Regions from separate parts of the Homo sapiens genome. Here region 2 is linked to region 1. The links come from fine-mapping of genetic effects on gene expression. A gene starts in region 1. The other region holds a variant in brackets. All regions are shown on one strand. Distances are between the middles of the regions. Region 1 holds the start of NCAPD3 (non-SMC condensin II complex subunit D3). Region 2 holds the start of SNORD153 (small nucleolar RNA, C/D box 153).

The links.
Region 2: its variant is fine-mapped to the expression of NCAPD3 in whole blood (TOPMed, PIP 0.98).

What each region holds. Positions count from the first base shown.
Region 1 is chr11:134,217,803-134,227,929 of GRCh38, reverse strand. It overlaps NCAPD3 (non-SMC condensin II complex subunit D3), which reads left to right and starts at 3,963. Exons shown (of 35, transcript NM_015261.3): 1 at 3,963-4,067; 2 at 7,204-7,358. The coding sequence starts at 4,004. VPS26B (VPS26 retromer complex component B) reads right to left here and starts at 3,259. Exons shown (of 6, transcript NM_052875.5): 1 at 2,585-3,259. The coding sequence starts at 2,807. RefSeq lists enhancers at 2,373-2,522, 2,623-2,682, 3,473-3,522 and a silencer at 2,883-3,352.
Region 2 is chr11:134,146,597-134,157,357 of GRCh38, reverse strand. JAM3 (junctional adhesion molecule 3) reads right to left here. Exons shown (of 9, transcript NM_032801.5): 7 at 8,682-8,811; 8 at 8,540-8,594; 9 at 5,357-8,212. The coding sequence ends at 8,177. NCAPD3 (non-SMC condensin II complex subunit D3) reads left to right here. Exons shown (of 35, transcript NM_015261.3): 32 at 263-340; 33 at 3,995-4,069; 34 at 4,158-4,218; 35 at 4,306-7,245. The coding sequence ends at 4,414. It overlaps SNORD153 (small nucleolar RNA, C/D box 153), which reads left to right and starts at 5,995; the gene lies at 5,995-6,070. The variant G/T (reference allele first, on the strand shown) is at 3,394.

The DNA of each region.
Region 1 (10,127 bases):
CTTATCAGTAGACAGGGCGATCTTCTTCAGGTAAAACAGGTACAGGAGGAAGAGCAGCAAGCCAGTGGGTGATAACTCAATTTGTGAAATGGAAACATTTTACTACAACTACCATAATTTTATAAAGGAACCCTCTATAAGGGTCATGCATGATCCCCTGGCATGCCCAACATTCTCACCAAGTGATGTTATTTTCCTTGCTTGGTAGCTGAGAAAGCCGAGGCCCAGAGAGTGGCTAAATTCCCCCAGTCTCATGGTCAACTCAGTGCAGGGTGGCCAAGGGCCCGGGAAGAGTTACTAGTGGAAGCAACAAAAGGTTCTGAGAAAATTCAGCAGGGATGATGGATGTCTCAGGAGTAAGGAGATAGACAAGAAATCAGGTGGGGCAGGAACAGCAAGCAGTTTCTTCAACTCCCTTTCATTTAGACCAGAGGAAGGCCTTGACACGGTTCCTAGAACAGCTAATTTCACACTGTCTGGGGCAGAAGACATTCTGGGTTATCTTTCACATACTGGTAAGGTACCACCATCTGGGAGTGATGGTATAGACACAGACTAAACATGCCTGCCAACACTAATTATTATTATGGAGCCAAAGAATCAATGCAATAACTTTAAAACTGCTACTAAAAAATACCTTGCTCAATAGGCAAGGATTTCTCGACTATTTACTATGCGTAGCATAATATGCTTTGGACTCATCCTGTTTATCCTGGGGTTCTTTGCTAGAGATGATTTTACCCTCCAGAGGATATACAGCAATATCTGAAGACATTTTTGTGGTCGCAAGTGGGGGATGCTACTGTTGTCTGGTCAGTAGAGGCTGGGAATGCTGCTAAACATCCCATGACAACATGCCAAACGATGCCAGACATCACAGTGCTGCTACTGAGGAACCTTGCCATCTACCCCACCATTGAACCCAGAAGCAGGAAAGCAGAAGGCATGGAACTCACTCTTCGGCCCCTTTTCTGGTACACTAAGACCTTTCATATTCTGGCTTTAAAATAACAACAAAGAGCTTCCTGTAAGATCAGCCAGTCTTCAACCTGATTTCATGTTCTTAAATACCAGAGGCAAAATGCTTGAGGCTGAGCAGTGAACCCAAGAGCCAGGCCACAAGGCCTCCTTTTCCCAGGGTTTCTCCTACCTGTGTCTCCGTGTTTCCTGCCTCTGTGAAAAAAAGACGGCAAATTCTTTGCTAAACTCTCAGGATAAGAGAGTTTAACAAAGATTCCCCAAGGAAGTCTCTAAAAACAGAGTTATGTATGCAGTGTGTGGTATCGGTATGGATTCTCTACCAGAGGTGTGTAGCTCACAGGGTATTTACTGTGATTCTACTCCTAACCTAACGACAAAAACAACTTATTTTAAAAGTACCCAAGCATTTTAATAATACACAAGAGTCTAAATAAGGCTTAGAATTGGAGACGACCCAGTCTTGACTGGGAGCTCCCCAAATCACTTTACCATTACTGCCTTTTACTGTCTAGTTCTTATTTGTTTATTTGTTTATTTTTTTGAGACAGGGTCTTGCTGGTTGTCACCCAGGCTGGAGTGCTGTGGTGTTATCACAGCTCACTGCTGCCTGGAACTCCTGGGTTCAAACAATCCTCCCATCTTAGCCCCCCGAGGAGCTAGGACTACCGGCAAGCACCACCACGACCAGCTAATTACAAAAAAATTTTTGGGGGTAGAGGCAGGTCTTGCTATATTGCCCAGGCTGGTCTCCAACTCCTGGCCTCAAGCAATCCTCCCACTTCAGCCTCTCAAAGTGCTGGGATTGTAGGCATCAGCCACTGTGCCTGGCGCTGTCTAGTTCCAATGATTAATAATCATGTTTAAAGCATTGAGAAACTCTGATCACTTAATTGTGGTTTTTAGAAACACCATTTCTTTGTCTTTAAACAGAAAATGTGGTAACTGAAAACTTGCATTCTAATAAAGAAGTCTAAGAAACGCAGCCTAGGTAGTCAGATTTAGACTGAAGATTATGGGTCTTCTTTCTGGAAACATGTACAAGCATAGGTAGTTCAGGGCTGAGGTGAGGTAAGAGAGAACTGGTTAGCTCTCTCACACCACATCTAAAGAGAAAAACGGGTTGGTGCGGGCTCTGGGAAGTGGGGCTCGGTGGACGAGCCTCACTTTGCGTCTGGCAGTTGCAGATGGCCGGGCGATGGGAAAGCCAGTATTGGCAGAGCGGTCTCCCCCTAACAAACCCACCTGCAGGCTATGGCCAGAGCACCTCACCCAGAAATCCTGGGGACAAGAAGCAAAGCCGAGTGCATGCCGGAGACAATGGGGAGAACCCATAGGCAAGGTGCCCATCCCACGAGGCACAGCAGGGCGCTTCCTCCCGCCCTCGCCGTCCCCATCTCCCTGGCAGCGCGCTGTCACTTTTGGCAGGGAGGACAGTAACGCAGGGGGAGTCGCCCACGGGCGGGACTTGTAGCTGAACCCCAGGCCTCAGACTGCAGTTGACAAGCGACTGTGACAGGCCTCGCCGGAGGAGCTGGGCCCTGAATCACCCTGCTCCCCGGCCGGCTGTCGGCGCTGGGGGAGGGGGTCCCGGGGGTCGACTCACCGATCTGCCCGATGAACTCGATCTTGATGCCCTGGTGCTCCAGCCGCTTGTTGGGGTTCTTGAGGGCAAGGCTCACCTTCCCGGAGACCGTCTCCCCGTCGTAGAAGAGGAAATATTTCTCCTTCTTCCCGTCCTCCGTCTTGTGCTCGGCCCGCTTCCTACTCTCTGCATCGTTCAGAAGGATTTCCACCTCCACGCTCTGCCCGAAGCCGAAGAAGCTCATCGCACCGCCGGGCCGGGCGGGTCTCGGTAAGGACCGCTCCCTCGCACCGGGGCGCGGGCTGCCCTAGGTAAAGAAGGCCAGAGGGCCCGATGCGCGAGCGCGCTCGGCCGCCGCGGGGCTGCCTGGCTCCGCCGCTGCCGCCGGGCAGTGGGCGCCGACGGACAGCCGGCTCCACGGGGGAGGGGCACGGCCGGGGGAGGCTGGCGGCTGCGGGCTGCGGCGCCCGAGCAGCAATGCACCGAGGAGCAGTGCCCTCGGCCGAGCCAGTCCCAGCCAGTCCCGCGGCCGGTGGCAGTGGGCGGGCGAGGGTCGGCCGTGCAATGCTGCGGGGGGCAGCCGCACAGAGCCGGGTGTGGGTGGCCTGCGCCTGCCGGGTGGGGTCCAGCGCCGAGCAGCGCTGCGAGCTGCCCAGCCTCCGGCGGTGCAACGCACCGAGGCGCTTCGGCGGCTCCGGGCGGGGGAGGGGGCGGGCGAGCTCCAGCCCGGATGCGCTGGAGCAGCGGCGCGCAGGCGCACCCCCTAACGCTCCTGGGACTCCCGGCAGCCCGGAGGAGAGCTCGCTGCGCATGCGCAGGGAGAGCGCGGCCGGCGCTCCAGCGGTCGGCATGGCAGCTGCTACCTCGCTGGGACAGGCTCTGGGCCCACGCGTGCCGCGCAGTCCCTACAGAACTGCAGTTGTCTTGTCTTCTCGGAGTGCTTTCGGCTACTTTTCCCTTATTACTTTAGCTCGATACACGTTGGGCTGCCTTTCACATTCGGATATTACGCTGTTCGAGTGCTGACGGGAAAGGCAGCCCTTTGACACGCACGCGAAATGTCGCCTGACGAGGGCAAAGGTGACAGTTACTACCGGAAGTACCCTATCTCAGATACCCTTTAGATTTTCCCCCATTGAAGAAAAACGAGGCGGGAAAAACGCTGTTAGGGTTTAACTCAGGCCCTGGCTCCTTCTCGAACGAATTAGCGGAACACCCGCAGGAGCCTTGTTTGGCTTCCACTTTTCGGCCCGCCCAGTTCTCTGAGCGTGCGGCGGACGACGCCGGTGATTGGTTGAGCGAATGGAAACGGCTCGGCGCGGTGGTTGGCCAGTGGGAAATTCTGTACGTTGTGATTGGTCCACAGGAACGACTCGGCGCGCGCGCGGGAGCGAGCTTTGAAAGTTGAGCACGGCGGCGGCGAGCCGGTGCCCTGGGATCATGGTGGCGTTGCGGGGCCTTGGTAGCGGCCTGCAGCCCTGGTGTCCGCTGGATCTTAGACTCGGTGAGCAGATGCAGCCGGGAGGCCCGGGGGCCAGGGCGAGGGTCCTATGCGTCCCCGACGATGCCTAAGCCCGGGCCGGGGTGCCGGTGGGGGCGGGGTGGGGGCGCCCGGCTGTCGGCGGTGCCTGGGGTCCCCAGGGCCGTGCCACGCCAGGATTGCGGCTAGCCAGGTTTCCCGTGGGGGCTCAAGCCGGCCAGGCCACCCTTAGAATAAGCGAATGTTGGCCAGTCTCTTCTAGCGCCTGTGCATCTGTTTTCTCGGCCTTCCCCTTCTTCCTGTGCGTGTCTTCGTGCACCTATCTATTCTTACCTATTAAGATGGTTTTAAATTGCAAATCTCTTTCTTCCGCCAGACTTATTTCTTGAACTTCATGTTCATAGGTTCCACTGGATGTCTCACATGCAGACATCATCAAACGTCACATGAGTGAAAATGGGATTCCCAAAGCCTGCTAATGGCACCATCCAAGCCACCAACCCAGGAGTCATGGCATTTCTGCTTCCCCTTTCATGCCCACTACCACTGTCCTGCCTCTGAGGTGTCTCAGGGCAGCCCCGCTCCATTCCTGATGCTGCTGCCTTCATCATAGCCTCGAGCAATTGCAGGAGTATTTTAGCTGCTTTCTGATGTTAACTGTGCCAGCCCATCCCCCACACTTTTGCAGAACGACTTTTGAAAACACAGCTTTGAATGTGTCAAGCCTGTACACCTTTAATGTTTCCCCTTTGTTTCCTAAATAAATGACCACATCCTTGGCATGCTTTATAAGAGCTGCCATTCTCTCCAGTTTGATTTTCCAAGAGCATAACCTTTGGAGTCGGACACACTTGGATTGTTCCCTTGGCTCTACCCCATAGCATCCATGTATTACCGTGCAGGTTGTTTATCCTTGCTAAACCCCTGTTTTCTGATCTGTCAAATGGGGAGTACAATATCTACCTCACAGGGGTTTTTGTAAAGATAAATTTGTACTTGCCACATAATAACTGCTGAACAGATACTAATACCCACAAGCAAACACTGTAACAATTTTGTTCATTTAGAAACACTTTAATTTCTTTCCCTTTGTGTGCTTTGTTACACTGTGCTTGCTGGGAGGCACTTTTCTGCATTTATTTGCCTGGCAAAACTCTTACATTCAGGTCCAATTGAAGAATCATCTTATTCCTCTCCCTCCTCCCCCAGTACTATTCCCTATTAAGCTCTGTAGCATTTTACATTTTACATATCTATTATTTTAACACTCATCCATAGCAAAAATAATAAATACCATCTATTGACTGTTTTTTATGTGGCTAGCACATTGTTAGGGCCTTTATACACATTATGTTTCACAAAAATCCTGTATTTCCAATGATGAAGGAGAGACTAATTATGTGTAAGTGATCAAGTCAGGATATTTGCCTCGTTCTGACTCAAAATTCAGTGGCCTCTCTTCTATCATAGGCTGCTTTTTTTGGTATCCTAAGTGTGAAATGTTGAGATCTTTGTGGACAAGAACCCTCTAGTATTCATCTTTATATCCCTAGAAGTATAAGTGGCTTCCCTAGTATTTTCTCAAAGTGTTTGTTGAGTGAATAGGTGATGTATTTCTTCCTCTTCTTCCATCCTAAGTGAAGTAGCAGAGCAGAAGTTACCTGCATTCGACAGCTGAGAAAATAGGTAGTGAGAGATTTGAATAGTGTAAAGATACTGAGGGAAAAAGACTAACTCAGTGTCTCCTATACTCTCACTCAACAATCAACACTGAAGACTTCTGTGACCAAATGGTAGATAACAGGGCCAGTTACTGCCATCCAAATTAGATTTGATGGTATTTACAGTAGGGAACTGTCATAAGCAAAACCAAAAGAAGGAGTGAGATAACTTTTGCTGTGGTCTATAATGACCTTTAAAACATTACTGGAAATTTGGAAAGAAACAATTGTATTTTTCAGATCTTCTTTCAGGCAGCATATTCCATGTCTTTGGAAGGAATGCTGTGCATAGCCACTTAGGGTACAGAGACCCCCTCCTTCAGGGTCAAGTTCAAGTGACAAAAGATGATGACCAGATTGTATTCTAAGGATGGAACTAGTTGAGTGTAAGGCCTTTCATTTTCATTTGCCGAGTGCAGTGTAATGCTCCCATCTCTGTTTTTTCCTTATTTATACCTTGCCCAACTTCTCTAAATCAGTGGTGAACAAATACTTTTAATATTAATTTGAAGGAACACCTGATTAATAATTTGAGATGTCCACATTTCCATCTAGTCCTAATTTTAGTTTGGGAAAGTGACAATGACAACACTGAAGAAATATAGTGTATTAGAAAAGAATGGGAAGGGGGGATGGAGGGATAGGGGAGGGATACCATTAGGAGAAATACCTAATGTAGATGACGGGTTGATGGGTACAGCAAACCACCATGGTACGTGTATACCTATGTAACAAACCTGCATGTTGTGCACATGTACCCAAAAACTTTAAGTTAAAAAAAAAAGTTTATCCAAAAAAAAAAGAAAAAGAAAAGAATGGGAAGATTTAGAGTTAAGAGAGATTGGTGGAATCCAGCCAGCGTGCTGTCTTAATACCCCTCCTCTCAATGTACATTCTTTCAATCAGTGTGTTTTAAAGTCACCAAGTATTCCTGGGAGTCTGAATCTGGGTTGCCTCTTCTATTTTAAACTTCCTGGAGAAATTATATATGTTTTTTAAATGCTACATGATTGTCCAAGGGCCCAATAAAGTGCTCTATATTTTATTTCCACTTATTAACTTGGTTATGATATTTTCACAAAGGAACCTCGTGGGCAATCTGATTAACCTCTGTTTCTTCTCTAGATTGAACATGTGGGAAAGCCTGATCACTGAATGTTTTGAAGTGTCCTTTCCCAAAACTCTTGTATCTGAAAAGTATTTCCTCCTTTATATTTTTAGAAGATGATTAGCTTAATAGTCAGTGTCAGTTGTGATTTAAGATTCTCTTAACCTTTTCTGGTTTTCTTTTATTATGCTACACCTATGTTATTAAAACAAGTTAAATGTGAATCGTGACTAGTAAACTTTTCTCCTCTTGAACACACCTGGAATCTAAAGGTGACTAGTTTTTTTACTTGTTACAGAGTACTTACACATTTCATTGCATTTTCCCCTAGAATGGGTTGACACAGTGTGGGAACTGGATTTCACAGAGACTGAGCCTTTGGATCCCAGCATAGAAGCAGAGATCATAGAGACTGGATTGGCTGCATTCACAAAACTCTATGAAAGCCTTTTACCCTTTGCTACTGGAGAACATGGATCTATGGAGGTAAAAATATAAAAACAAACTAGCCAAAGTTTGGTGTTAGAAGTAGAAGATGAAAGTCATTATTATAATCTGAAGCTTAGCTTTCTTGGTGTACAGTTCACAGGGAGTACAATATGAGTAACATAAAGAATGTGGTTAATTTATTGGAATATCCTAAGAGCTTTCCTCCAAAAGCTTCAAGGTACTTGTCTGATTTTTTTTTTTTAAGACACGACTGTTTTTTACAATAGCAAATTAAAGGAAAAGTATAAGGCCGGGTGTGGTGTCTTACGTCTGTAATCCCAGCACTTTGAGAGGCTGAGGCTGGCCAGTTGCTTGAGCTCAGGAGTTTGAGACTAGCCTGGGCAACATGGCAAAACCCCATCTCAGAAGGAAAAAAAAAAAGGAAAAATATAAAGGCAAAAACAAGAAAACTAGACCAAGGAAAATGCAAATAACAATTCAGACATGCCTTAACCTTAACTTTAAGAAAATCTGCGACCAGGCATGGTGGCTCATGCCTGTAATCCCAGTACTTTGGGAGGCCGAGGTGGGTGGATCACGAAGTCAGGAGTTCAAGACCAGCCTGACCAAGATGGTGAAACCCCATCTCTACTAAAAATACAAAAATTAGCCGGTTGTGGTGGCGGGCTTCTGTAATCCCAGCTACTCGAGAGGCTGGGGCAGATAATTGCTTGAACCCAGGAGGCGGAGGTTACAGTGAGCCGAGATCACGCCACTGCACTCCAGCCTGGGCGACAGAGCAAGACTCTGTCTCACAAAAAAAGAAAATCTGATATTATTAAACTGAGGAATGACTAGTTGAATTAACAGGTTTGTCCAAACAGTTCCTGTAAATATTGAGTTCTATCCAATGCATAGAAATATAAATTATTATTAATATTTAGGTTGTTAGTTTTCAAAAAAAACCAAAGGGTTGGGAAACAGAACAAAAGCTAATTGGATATTAACATCTCTGAAACATTTAAATGAACAAAAAAAAATTCACTTCCAAGTTTCACATCACAAAATTAAATCATCTAATTAAACATTCCTTCAGCATAACACTAAGCACTGCCTTAAGTACCTGAGTTGACAGAGTGGGGATTACGATACAATCTCCCTAGGTTGAGGTCCTCCCCAGGGACCTCAGGGAGGAAGAGTGGACATTTGAACACTAGCCAAAGTAGGTCTAGCAGCCACATGCAGTTGCAGGGGGTGGAGAGTTCAGTGCCACTGTGCATTTGGGCGCCTGGAAATATTCTACGAACCACACTGTGAAAAATGCTCCAAGAGAGGTGCGGATTTGTTGCATAGGGTGTGAAAAAGGGAGCATGGTAGGGTTGGGAAAGTTCCAGAAAGAAAGTGGCCAGCAGCGAATCTTCACAGATGACTAGCAGAAGCTTGGGTTGTAAGGCAGTCCTAGTGAAGGAGCCACCCAATGGGAACACGCAGGAAGTGTCAAGAGGCATACAGAAAAAGTGTGGTGGAACGGGATGGTAAGGTAGAGTAAGGGTAGGTCACGGGTAGCTTTACGTGAGGTTCAGCAGTGGAGTTTGAACATGTTTGGTAGAGTGTGTATGAGGTTTTGTTCTAAGCGTCCTGCATGTATTAACTCATTTAATCCTCAAGCAGCCTGTGTGAAAGAGGTTACAGTGGGCAATAGATAGGTAACATGAATAGATCTGTTTTAAGCAGACGTTCTTGACAGTAGGTGGACTGAAGTGGGAAAAATTGTGTGCAGGGAGAGCCCTTGGGAGACTGTATTGGTGATCCAGGTGTTATGAGTAATAATGGCATGATCCGGAGTTACAATTTTGGGAACTGGAAAGGAAGACTAAAAACTAGGGACATTTTTGGAATTAGAATTAATAGGGCCTTGTGAACTAGGAAGCCCTTTTGAGATATCTTAAAAACATGGTGTGAAGTGCTAAACTGACTGGGCATAGGGAATTAGAAAAAGAAAGAAGTCAGTGATCCCCAGGGTTTCAAAACTAGGAAGATGATGATATTGTTAACCAAGGTGGGGAATAAGGGAAAAAGAGCAAGGTCAAATGGAGAAACAGTTCTGTTTAGACTTCTGAACTTGAGATTCTGTCAGGAGATCCTTGGGAAGTTTAACAGGTAGTAGAAATGTGAGACCAGGAGAGAGAAGAGAGTTCTTTAAATTGAGGTATGGGTTGAAGCACAGTGATGCATGAGATCACCGAGGGTGAGAAGCAGCCAGGACAGAAATGGAGAGCTGATTGGACGGGGTCTGCAGAGGAGCAGTCACATGTAGGGAGTGCAGGGTCACTGACGCCCAGACTAGACAGCAGCCATGGGATCACATGGGGCCAAGGTGACCCCATATGCAGAGCCCTGGTGAGCAGATGGTTTAGGGTGATCGATCACCCTCGTGTGTGAAGTGGAGGTGCAGGTGGCATTAGGAATGAGGATGTGACACTGTAAAGTTAGGAGATGATTTCTTCCCCCCCCCCCCTTTTTTTTTTTTGAGACCAGGGTCTTGCTCTGTCACCCAGGCTGGAATGCAGTGGCACAGTCAAAGCTTACTGCAGCCTCAACTTATTGGGCTCACATGAGCCTCCCACCTCACCCTCCTGAGTAGCTGGGACTACAGGTGTGTGCCACCACGCCCAGCTAATTTTTTATTTTTTGTGGAGACAAGGTCTTGCTTTGTTGCCCTGGCTGTTCTCAAACTCCTGGGCTCAAGCAGTCCTCCTGCCCTGGCCTCTCAAAGTGCTGGGATTACAGGCATGAGCCATTGTGCCCAGTGGAGATGATTTCTCC
Region 2 (10,761 bases), 71 kb after region 1:
AAACTTTGGATAGTGTCAAACTGTCCTCTATCACTTATGCCAAGTTAGACTCTTTTATTTTTTTGAATCCTAATGAGAATGGACATTTTTTCTCATGTTTATCATTTATTTGTATTTCTTCCTGAATTGCCTCTTTATAAGAAAATTGTAAACACTAGTGATTTTGACTTTACGTCTTGCAGATATGTTTTCTCATGTGGTTGTTTTGCTCTTCGTTATTGTTTGGGGGTATTTCTGGATAGCAGCACCTTTTCTGTTCTAGTGTCTTCATACAGTTTGGAGCAAGAGTCGAATGGCGAGATTGAGCACGTGACCAAGCGGGCCATCAGCACCCCCGAGAGTGAGTAACTGATCGGAACACGTGGGCTTCTCCTCAGTCTCTCCTGCATTCGTGATGTGTTTGCTAGAGTCGCAGTAAAACTCCTTCCGGTGCAGGATAGTTCTGATGGTCAGAACCATGAGTGCATTGCTGAGGTGGAGTATTTCACAGTGACCACGGTCGCTTGATCCATGAGCACTGACCGAGTATGTTGTTCCAGTGTCGTTACATTCAGTCAGTCAAACACCACAGTGGCCCGCGGAGCAGACAATGCCGTTGAGGCACAGGTAGGTTGGGTGACTGACCCAGTGGTGCCTTCTGGAGGCGGCCCTCCGTGTCTCTGGGCTGTCCGGGTGCACTGGGCGCTGCTGGGTGGGCCTGCTCCCAGGGCGGGCAGACGTCAGCACCAGCAGGTACCATGCACGCTCTGCAACTGCCAAGACCAGAGACCCGGGGACCCCTGCTCGGAGCCTGTGTCTCATTCCCCTCCATGTTTTTTCCTACTGTTTGTGCTTTTCCTTTGATTTCAAAACAGAGGTGAGTTAGGAGAGTTGAGTATTCTTTTCCTATTATCTTGTGTGATAGCTTCATATTGTGTCAAACCTCATAAAAACCATTATTTTGAGAAAACTCTTACAGGAAGAAGAAATGCTTCCTGTCCTAAATCTGTGGAGTAGTGGCTAGGCCCTGCCGCCGTGTCCCTGTGTGCCCCTCGCTCTGCGCCCGGCTGTGCACAGTGCCCTCAGCAAGCTGCATCCAGCCCCGCTCGTCCCTGGCCATTCCACTCCTCACTGTTTCCACAGACCACAGTGCCTGGAACCTGGGAGGTGTCAGAGATCTCCTCCCGGAGACTTCTGGGAGGGCAGAGCTGGGCGCTGAGCCCAGGCCTTCTGGTCCCAACTCTTGTGCCCCTTCTCCAGCCTGTCTCCTAGTCCTGACTGCAGGGGAAGATGAGAGCGTGCTAAGGTGCTCTTCCTGGTAACAGAGCAGCAAGGTGTCCTGCCGTTCGTTTAGTCACTGCTTCAGTCAGCTCATGTGTGTGGAGCACCTGCTGTATTCTAGCTACTTGCTTGTTTGGTTCTGTCACACTGATGCTGTGATCTCTTAGAATAGTTAACAGGTTAGAGGTAATTTTCATCCAGGTCCCCCTTTGAAGGGAGTTTATCCCACCCCCACCCTCAGACGACAACCGAATCATGACGGCATTTGTCATTAAAGGCAGTGGGTAATTTGGGATCCTGCGTCGTGGACAGGTGCGATGTTCTGTGTGTTAGAGCTTGCTGTGTGTTCGATGTTCCTGGCTCAGGAGTGCCAAGAGCTTCTATTTTGGCAGTGAGGTGCCATATGCTGAAGAAACGGGGAGAACGCATCTCATTTTCGTTGTGCTCATCCTGAGTCCCTGATGTCAGTGTTGGGTTGTTTCCTAGCAGCTCGTGTTTCTCCACAGGGCAGCCTGGCGTGGAGGGTTCATGCCGCCCTCATCTGCCTGTGTGGAGCCACGCTTTGTGCTGGAAATCAGGCGCCCGGTGTCATTGAGTTGGTAGAGTACTTGTTCTTGCTCCAGGCTCTTGGACATAATATTCCTGCTGATGCAGTCTCTGTCCGTCTCTCTTTATACTGAACCAGGAAGAAATGCCTGGAGGTCTCCCCTTCCTGGGAGAACTGTTAGATAGTTTAAAAGCACTCAGTTCTGTTTTCTCTGTGGTTTATACGTCCAGATTCTTTTTGGCAACTTTTAGTTTAGGTGGGGGAGACTGTCAGGAAGTGTCTCAGCTCTTCAAAGCTGGCAGGAAAGATGCCACCCAGTTCAGCACCAATTCACAGTGGCTTTGCTAAATGGAAATGAAAATTAGTCAATTTTCAGAGCGAGGATTTTAACTGAAAATCTGTGGGGGTTTTAGCAAGTCCCTGTTACTGTTACCATTCGGGTGGCACAGACGCTGCTGCCTTCGATTCTACGCACAGTGCATGGGGGACGTCAGAGCCCCCGCACCCGGGCTTCTGTAAAGATGGGAGACTAATTTCCTGGAGTGCATATGGGCTTCCAAACAGGAAGAGCAGTGTGTGTGTCAGGAAGGGAATTTCATGTGACAGCACAAGGAGAGACTTCACCGAAACAGAATAAGCAGATCTAGCAGTGATGAGGAATTCTCTACCATCGTCTATTAGTGACACTCAAGTAGCCATCGGGTACACAGCTGCAGTGCGCTGATGAGCTTTGAACTGTAAATGGGAAGACACAGTCCATACTCAAGACACCAAGTGGAGAACGGGGAGCGCTCTGAAGCTGCCTCCTCGCATGTGCTTGCAGAAGGGCAGCAGGTTCAGTGGTACCAGCAAGCAGCTGCCCAGCCCGTGCTGTTCCCGGGAGTGTGCTGGTGGCAGCTTATGCACTGGGTACAGCACCACCCAGGAGGGGCGAGGCTGCACCACCCAGGAGGGGCGAGGCTGCACCACCCAGGAGGGGCGAGGCTGCACCACCCAGGAGGGGTGAGGCTGCACCACCCGGGCCTCCAAGACAGGGTGGCATGTGTAGGCAGATGGGGCGGTGGGGGGGGGGGTGCAGAGAAGCATAATGTGCAGACAGGGCCTGCTGAGGAAGAGGACGCAGGAGGGTGGACGTGTTTGTGCACGCGTGCACCTGAGCCTAACAGGTGAGTCTGTAAAGGCAGCTTGGGACCAGCTGAGACTGAGGGTGGACTTCAGGCTCTCCTAGGAACACAGCGATTGAGGTGTCTTGAAGCAGGGCAGTAAATTTACCAGCTTCTTGATGAAACATAACTCCAGTGATGCAGGGATGATACTGCTAATAAATGACAGTGGCTGCTAACATCTCTTGAGCACTGCCCTTGCAGCCAGCACGATGCTAAGCACTCAACGTGGATAACCTCATGTAGTCCTGGCAGCCCCCCAATGAGGTAGCTATGTTTTTATACCCACTTAAGAGATGAAGAAACCTGAGGGTCTCAGAGCAGCTCACACAGCTGGTGAGACACTGAGCCAGAATTCACACCCAAGCTGCGGTGGAATCTGCTCAACTGTGTTCTCCTGTTCCTGAGGGCAAACTGGAGGGG[G/T]TTCATTGCGGGTAGGTGCCATGAACAATCAAGGGCGAGGGGGGAGGTGGACTGAGCCGCTCCCAGTGTGGCACGACGGGACAGGATGAGGCGGCGACTGGAGGTAGAAGGGACAGGACTTGGCTGCTGATTCCATGTGGAGGAGCTGCTCACGGTGCCATATTTCCAGCGCGCATGCTCCAGTCACTGGCTGGAAACCAGCAGGCACGCGTGGAGGTGCAGAGGCAAGGAGTTGAAGTGTCCTCAGGGAATCTGGGTGAGCCACAGTAGGAGGTGTAGTAAGTGGGACAGGGCGGTCACCGGGACAGGGGCAATGATGGAAGACGGCGGGAGGGAAGCCAGAGGCGTGAACAGTGAGGCCCAGGGGCCAGCCGAGTGCCTGAGGGCTGCGGGTCAGAGAAGGGGGTCAGAGAGACGGAAAGGAGCATCCCCAGGAGGGGCCCTCAACACTGCCAGGCCCTGGGACAGGGTCCAGTGGAGGTCTGAGGGCCGCCGCTGGGACACTGATGTGGACACCCTGCCTACGTCCCACGGACAACTAGAACAGAGACCTCCGATAGACCACGCGGCTTTCACTCAGTGGTGTCTCCTCTTTATGCAGAGAGCATCAGTGATGTCACGTTTGGAGCAGGGGTCAGTTACATCGGGACACCACGGACTCCGTCGTCAGCCAAAGGCAAGTTCTTGGTGTCCTTCTGGGCTGATAGATGCACTGCCTTTGAGGTTCTGGGAAAGCTGAATGTGTTTGTTTGACTCCCTTTTAGAGAAAATTGAAGGCCGGAGTCAAGGAAATGACATCTTATGTTTATCACTGCCTGATAAACCGTAAGTTTAGCAGTGTTCCTTTTGAGGTGGATGTTTCTGTCAGGGTTTTTCTGAGTTCCAGAATGACTGCACATGTCCTTTCCCTAGGCCCCCACAGCCTCAGCAGTGGAATGTGCGGTCTCCCGCCAGGAATAAAGACACTCCAGCCTGCAGCAGGAGGTCCCTCCGAAAGACCCCTCTGAAAACAGCCAACTAAACAGCGCCTCCCACCAGTGTCCAGGCAGGCAGGAGCCCTTGAGGAAGCAGTCTCGTGTCCTCCGTGTGAAGGCAGCTGGATCACTTCCCGCAGTCCTTGGGCAGCGCTTTGCTGTGGAACACGAGAGCTCCTCCTCAGGGGCCTGGCACTCACCTTCTATTCTGTATGATGTATTTGGTTAAACACTGTCAAATAATAGAGATGTGCCAGATTTAGATTTTCTTACCCTAATCTGTTTAATATTGTAACTTTATTCCATTTGAAAGTGTCAAGCCCATTCAGATAAGCTATAATCTGGTCTTTAAGGAACACAACTTTAAAACTGCAGCTTTCTTTTATATAAATCAAGCCTCTGTTAACTTGAATTCCTTATAGTACATATTTTCCCATCTGTAATGACGAAATTTTGATTCTAATATTTTTTCTATTATTTATAAGTGCAAATTTTTTAAAAAAGTGTACAGCTTTCTAAAAGTAATAAAGGTTTAGCATAAATACAGCCTTCCAGTAGTCAATAGGATTTTTCTGTTTTTAGAACAGAGCTCTTATTGGTAATCATTTTAATTTTACATAAAGCATGTTTGTTTGTTAGAGGAATGAAACCAAATCTTCCCTATTAGAAAAAAGATGATTGTCTTGAAGGGCAGTTCATCTGTGCCCAGGCAGAGGCGGTGTGCTTTCCCTAACAGACATGAACAGCATCCCTTCTTGGGAAAAAATGGCTTTGCAGCCTTCCCCAGAGCAGCACTGCCGATTTGTGCAGCCCTCTGTTAAGGGCTGCTCCCATGATGGGGGAACAGCTTGAGTCTCTTCTGTTAGCACTAGTGGGTAAACTGAATGCTATTTTTGTTCAACAATATCCAGAAAGAAATGCAGTTGGTTTGTTTTTTAATCCCAGTATTACAAAAGCAAAAGTACAAAGTGATGATGTGCGTTGGTTGGTTTGGGGGATGGGATGCCACTGAGATCTGCCCACTGCCATCCCAAGTGGGAACCGCAACACAGGTGGGCTCGGTGGCGGAGAGGCGCAGCACTGCTCTTGAGCACACAGGCTGACCTCCTGCCCAGCACTGACTTCCCTGGTGGATGGGTGATTGATAGCATTTTTAGTGTGCATGCCTAACCACTGAAATGCTAGGAAGAAGAGACAAACCCAACGTAAGAGCAAATAACAAAGAATGAAGCAATGTTTGGGTTTTTTTGAAGCTTTTATAAATGAGGTTAAACAAATGCCAAATTACGGTGTGTTAGTACAAGTCTGTAGCATCTGTGTACAGCAACATCCATCCAAAGGCAGAATCACAGCCTCGTATCGGCCTCGAGTCTTGAGTCACATTCATATCTTAAAATACACGAGTATTCCTTTTCCGTCTAGTCTCAGTTATAGGCAGCTACTTCCCAGACTCTACTTTCACTTCTCTCTACTTTTTCAGACCTGGTTCCCATGGCACTAGTGTAGAAGGTTTTAGGGTATAAGAAGAGGGGGCAATAAGGCTACCCTATCACTATGACAACCAAGAAGGAGGCTGGAGCGTGAATCCCCAACGCTGAGGGTGGGGAGCCATCCCTCTCTACCAAGGTGGCAATGATGGAGGGAACTTGCATGCTAAGCATCCAGGATGCCATGCAGCAGACACCAGGGAGCACTGAGCCACTGCTGGAGCATTTCCTGCCTCTGCCAGGCGGCCTGCGGCAAAGTGTTTCACATAACTAAAAAAAGTCAACACAGTCTCATGTATGCAATTAAAAAAAAGCTGTCAAAGTATAAAAAACCCAAGACACTGGAAGCTGAAAGACAAGGTGAGTAGTGAGAGCCATTCTCCAGGCACACAGTGGAGTGCTCCTTCTCAGCAGCTCCTTGCTTTACAGCACTTCAGTCCTGAGTCCAGCACGGCAGGGCATGTGAGGCTGAGAACACCTGCTCTTGAAGAACACAGGCTTCTGAGTGATGTTGCTAATGTCCCCCCACAAATGGGAGCAGTGTCTCCGGCGGATGAAAAATTTAAAGTCAAAATTAGAAAACTGCTTTTGATTCAGGCGTTTCACTTTCCTCCCCGCCAGGCCTTTCACCTGGCTGCTCCACCTGACGTTCTTTAAAAGGCTGGACTGGCCGCCACTCCATCATGGTTTGTTTTGAAATGCGACAGAGCCTGTGGCGTCTGGGTGCTTTCTCTGTGGCAAAGAGGAACAGTGGGATCCATTTTCTTTTAAAAATGTTATTGTACTTGACAGACTTGATTTCGCAATTGCCTTTGGCCTTAGACAATCTTAACAAATAATTAAACAAACTTAAAAAAAAAAAATAGCATTGGGGGCCCTATTTTGTGAGCCATCCATAACCAAAAAGAGGTCTGTTACAGGAGCCCAAAGCTGGGACGCTACATGGAAGACACCAGTGTCCCTGCAGTGCCCACCTGAGAGCTGTGCTGGATGAAGCAAGGGCCACGTGAGTAAAGCTCACTGGGACACAGCCACTGCCAGGGCCCAAGGATGGCAGGGCCTCCTGGCAGACAGCGAGGCAACAGTGAGCTAGAGCGGGGGCGCCTGGCGCAACCCCAGGAGCTGACTGGCATCTGTGTATGTACATCTGAGGGCTTCTGGGTGGCCTCTGGGTACAGACTGTCCTAGTCATCTCAGGAAGAGGCAGTTCAAAGCTAACCTGAGAGGTTTCTTTTGAAGAGATGCAAACTGATTTCAACATTGCTTAACTGGAATTTTTAAAGGTTTCCTAAGCAACTATGGTCTGATGTGTAGACAGTATGAGTTCCCTTGTGAAAAAGGCTAAAACTTGTGTGAGAAAAGGAACATCACAGTAAACTTCCATGAGAGGATTCCTTGGGTAAAATACTCTTAATTATTGATATTTTCCAATTTAACACTAGTAGCTTGGAACTTCTACCTTAAGTTGAACTTTTTTAAAAAAATAGGTTATTTAACATTGTATGACAATATATTTACAGTTTAAATAGAAATTTTCTTTTCAATAATCAAAATACATCCTTAGCAAAAATTTAGATGTAAAATTTTATAAAATAAACAAGACCCATAGAAAAGCATATTTCAGTACCATTTCAGACTTAGCCTAAGACGAAGGTTTTCCTTAAATCCTGACACCCTGTTGGACAAGCAGGGTTCCTCAGGCAAGATCCCTCTTCCAGCAACCAATTTACCTTCCTGATTTTGGTTGTTTTTACAAAATGCTGATCCAAAAAGCTTCTCCACAATGGACACTGCAACACCGATCAGCAGAGCCTTTAAGAAGAAACTGCGGTGGTGTCTGTGGGCCGATGAAGTAAGGCTGCTGTGTAAGAAGCCTTTTCTGGGTTCCCGCCGGGATGCGCTGCTGGTGCTGTCCAGCCACCTCGCCATCTCACATGGTGCTGTCGTGGCTGCTGAACGACCAGTGGTGAACATGCTGGCTTCACAGGGCCCAGCACGGGCGTTTACGTGAGCAAACTCTTTAAGATCACCCTAATACTCATGCGGGAATCAGGCCAGAAACAGATTAGGAACCCAACTCAGTGAACGCACCCAGTTTCGCTTCCTTGTGGTTATATTTACCGGGTCCATCTTGAGGAAAATTCTTCTATTCATGTGGCTTGTTAGAGTAAGAAGAGTAGTGGTCAACTTTGGCCAAAACGAAAAGCTTCTGAATGAGTGTCTAGCTCTGTCCGAGTGCATCAGCTCTCGCTGCCTTGACAGGAGTTTCTAGCAGAGGTATGTGCACGTGCGCTCTGTGCGCTCTCAGCCACACCGCGGGTCTCAGATCACAAACGATGACTTGTGTCTGAAGTCGCCCTGCAAAGCCAACACACAGTTAGAGCCATCAAGGGGCCTGGTGGCAAGCAGGGAAAAACACGGAGTAAGTCTAACATGGGCTAAATACAGATGGAATAATCATTCTTAAAAAGTACCATCACTAGCGCTTGCAAAGCACAAATCCCATTAGTGTGTGTGTGTGTGTGTGTGTGTGTGTGTGTGTGTGTGTTACTGTGAAGGGGCTGAGGAGCTCAGGAGCTGCACAATCACTCAGAAATCTTCCCAGGAGACCCGTGTGGTTTCCAAGGGGGAATGTTGTTTTCCCTGCTGGGTACACCTAGGTTTCCAGGTTTACTAAATGATTACCTCCTCGTCAGTGCGGATGTAGTTAACTCCATCTGGTTTCCCTGGGTTCTTGTAACTATGAGGAGAAGAGAGCAGTTTAGCAACAGGGTTGTTATATTATTGCCAGCTTGAACTTCCCTTTTTTCACATAAGGCAGGCTCACCTTTCTCCATCCTGTTTATTGTTGATGAAGTAGCCACGTCTGTATGCACAGCAGATGCCCAACGTGATCAGGGCCAGTACAGCAAGGACAACCAGAACCCCCCCAATAATTCCGCCAATGTTCAGGTCATCTGAAGAAAAGGAGGTTTGGTGGAAGCCATGATACACACTATCTGTTATTTAAAAAGGCCCTGGCCCTGCTGTGCCTCCTTCCTTCACCCCAAACCCACTTGCCCCCTGCCCCCTCAGGCCTACCCCAGCTAGAAGAGAGAACACTTACAATCCTTCTAGCCTAGAACATATAGGACACCATAACTCCTAACTTCACACGTGAAAAGTACTGAGACTTCTACAGTTGAAATGCAGTCGCACTGAAAAGTGTATTAAAGTGGGCTTGGCACTGTAGGCTTAAAAATCCTCTGGCTGAATGCCTGAGATTACTTATGGAGGAAATGGTTATGAGGACAAGATTAGGAGCCAGGATCCCAAGAAGAAAAGAATCCCTAATTTCCAGGGCCTCCCTTTGTTGCAGATTGCTGCGGGGAAGAAAGGTAGCTTCAAGCCTTAAAGAATCTGTCTCAAAAAACAAACAAGTAAAGAATCCTAGGTAAGAACTAGAGCTTTGTCTCTGCCGGCTGCCTGACCTCCGATCTATAAGCCCTCTGAGAGGAAACCCCCTGGAACCCTTTTCTCATGTCTATACACTGGGCAAAGGCACTGGGTCACTTTCATATGGGGCTCTGGCAGCCGTTCCTTCAAGCAAGCGACACATGGAAAACTATGCAGGGAATTTATCAACAAGAGCCAAGTAACTTGGAAGTTTTAAAAAAATCTCCTTTATCCTAGTGTATTGGTTCTCAAAGATGAATGTACACTTAAAAATCAACTTGCAGGCCGGGCGCGGTGGCTCACGCCTGTAATCCCAGCACTTTGGGAGGCCGAGGTGGGCAGATCACGAGGTCAGAGATTCGAGACCATCCTGGCTAAGGTGGTGAAACCCCGTCTCTACTAGAAACACAAAAAATTGGCTGAGCGTGTTGGCAGGTGCCTGTAGTCCCAGCTACTCAGGAGGCTGAGGCAGGAGAAAGGTGTGAACCCGGGAGGCGGAGCTTGCAGTGAGCCGAGATTGTGCCACTGCACTCCAGCCTGGGTGACAGAGCGAGACTCCATCTCAAAAACAAAAAGTAAACTTGCAATCGTTTTTTTTTTTTTTTTTTTGAGACAGAGTCTTGCTCCGTCACCGTCACCCAGGCTGGAGTTCTGTGGTGCAATCTCGGCTCACTGCAAGCTCCGCCTCCCGGGTTCAAGGGATCCTTCTGCCTCAGCCTCCCAAGTTACTGGGACTACAGGCGCCTGCCACCACACCAGGCTAATTTTTGTATTTTTAGTAGACACAGAGTTTTGGCATGTTGGCCAGGCTGGTCTTGAACTCCTGACCTCAGGTGATCCACCCGCCTCAGCCTCCCAGAGTGCTAGGATTATAGTGTGAGCCACCACGCCTGGCATGCAATTTTGATGTTAAAATGTCAATTCCCAAGTTTCATCACTAAAAAGTCAATAGGCTAAAGTAGGTCTGGGGCAAAACTGCAGGAGAAAACAACCCTAGAGCAGAGTTTCTCAAACGTGACACATGAGAAGAATCCTTCGGAACGCTTGTCTCACACACAGACATTTCTAGCATATGTCTGAGGTGGGCTCGAATCTGTATGTGAAACAGTGGTCCCAAATGGGTATCACCAGGCAGTTTTGGAAAATGCTGCTCTGAGGAGAGCTCCAAATAGGGAGGAGGGAAGGATTCAAAAAATGCTCCTGGCTGGGCACAGTGGCTCATGCCTGTTAATCCCAGCACCTGGGGGAGGCCGAGGCAGGAGGATTGCTTGAGGCCAGGAGTTTGAGACCAGCCTGGGCAACACAGTGAGACCCCGTATCTACAAAAAATAAAATTAGCTGAGCATGGTGGTGTGTGCCTGTTGTTCCAGCTACTCAGGAGACTGAGGTGGGAGAATGGCTTGAAGGCTGGGTTTGAGGATGCAGTGACCTGTGACTGCACTCACTGCACTCCAGCCTGGGCAACAAAGCAA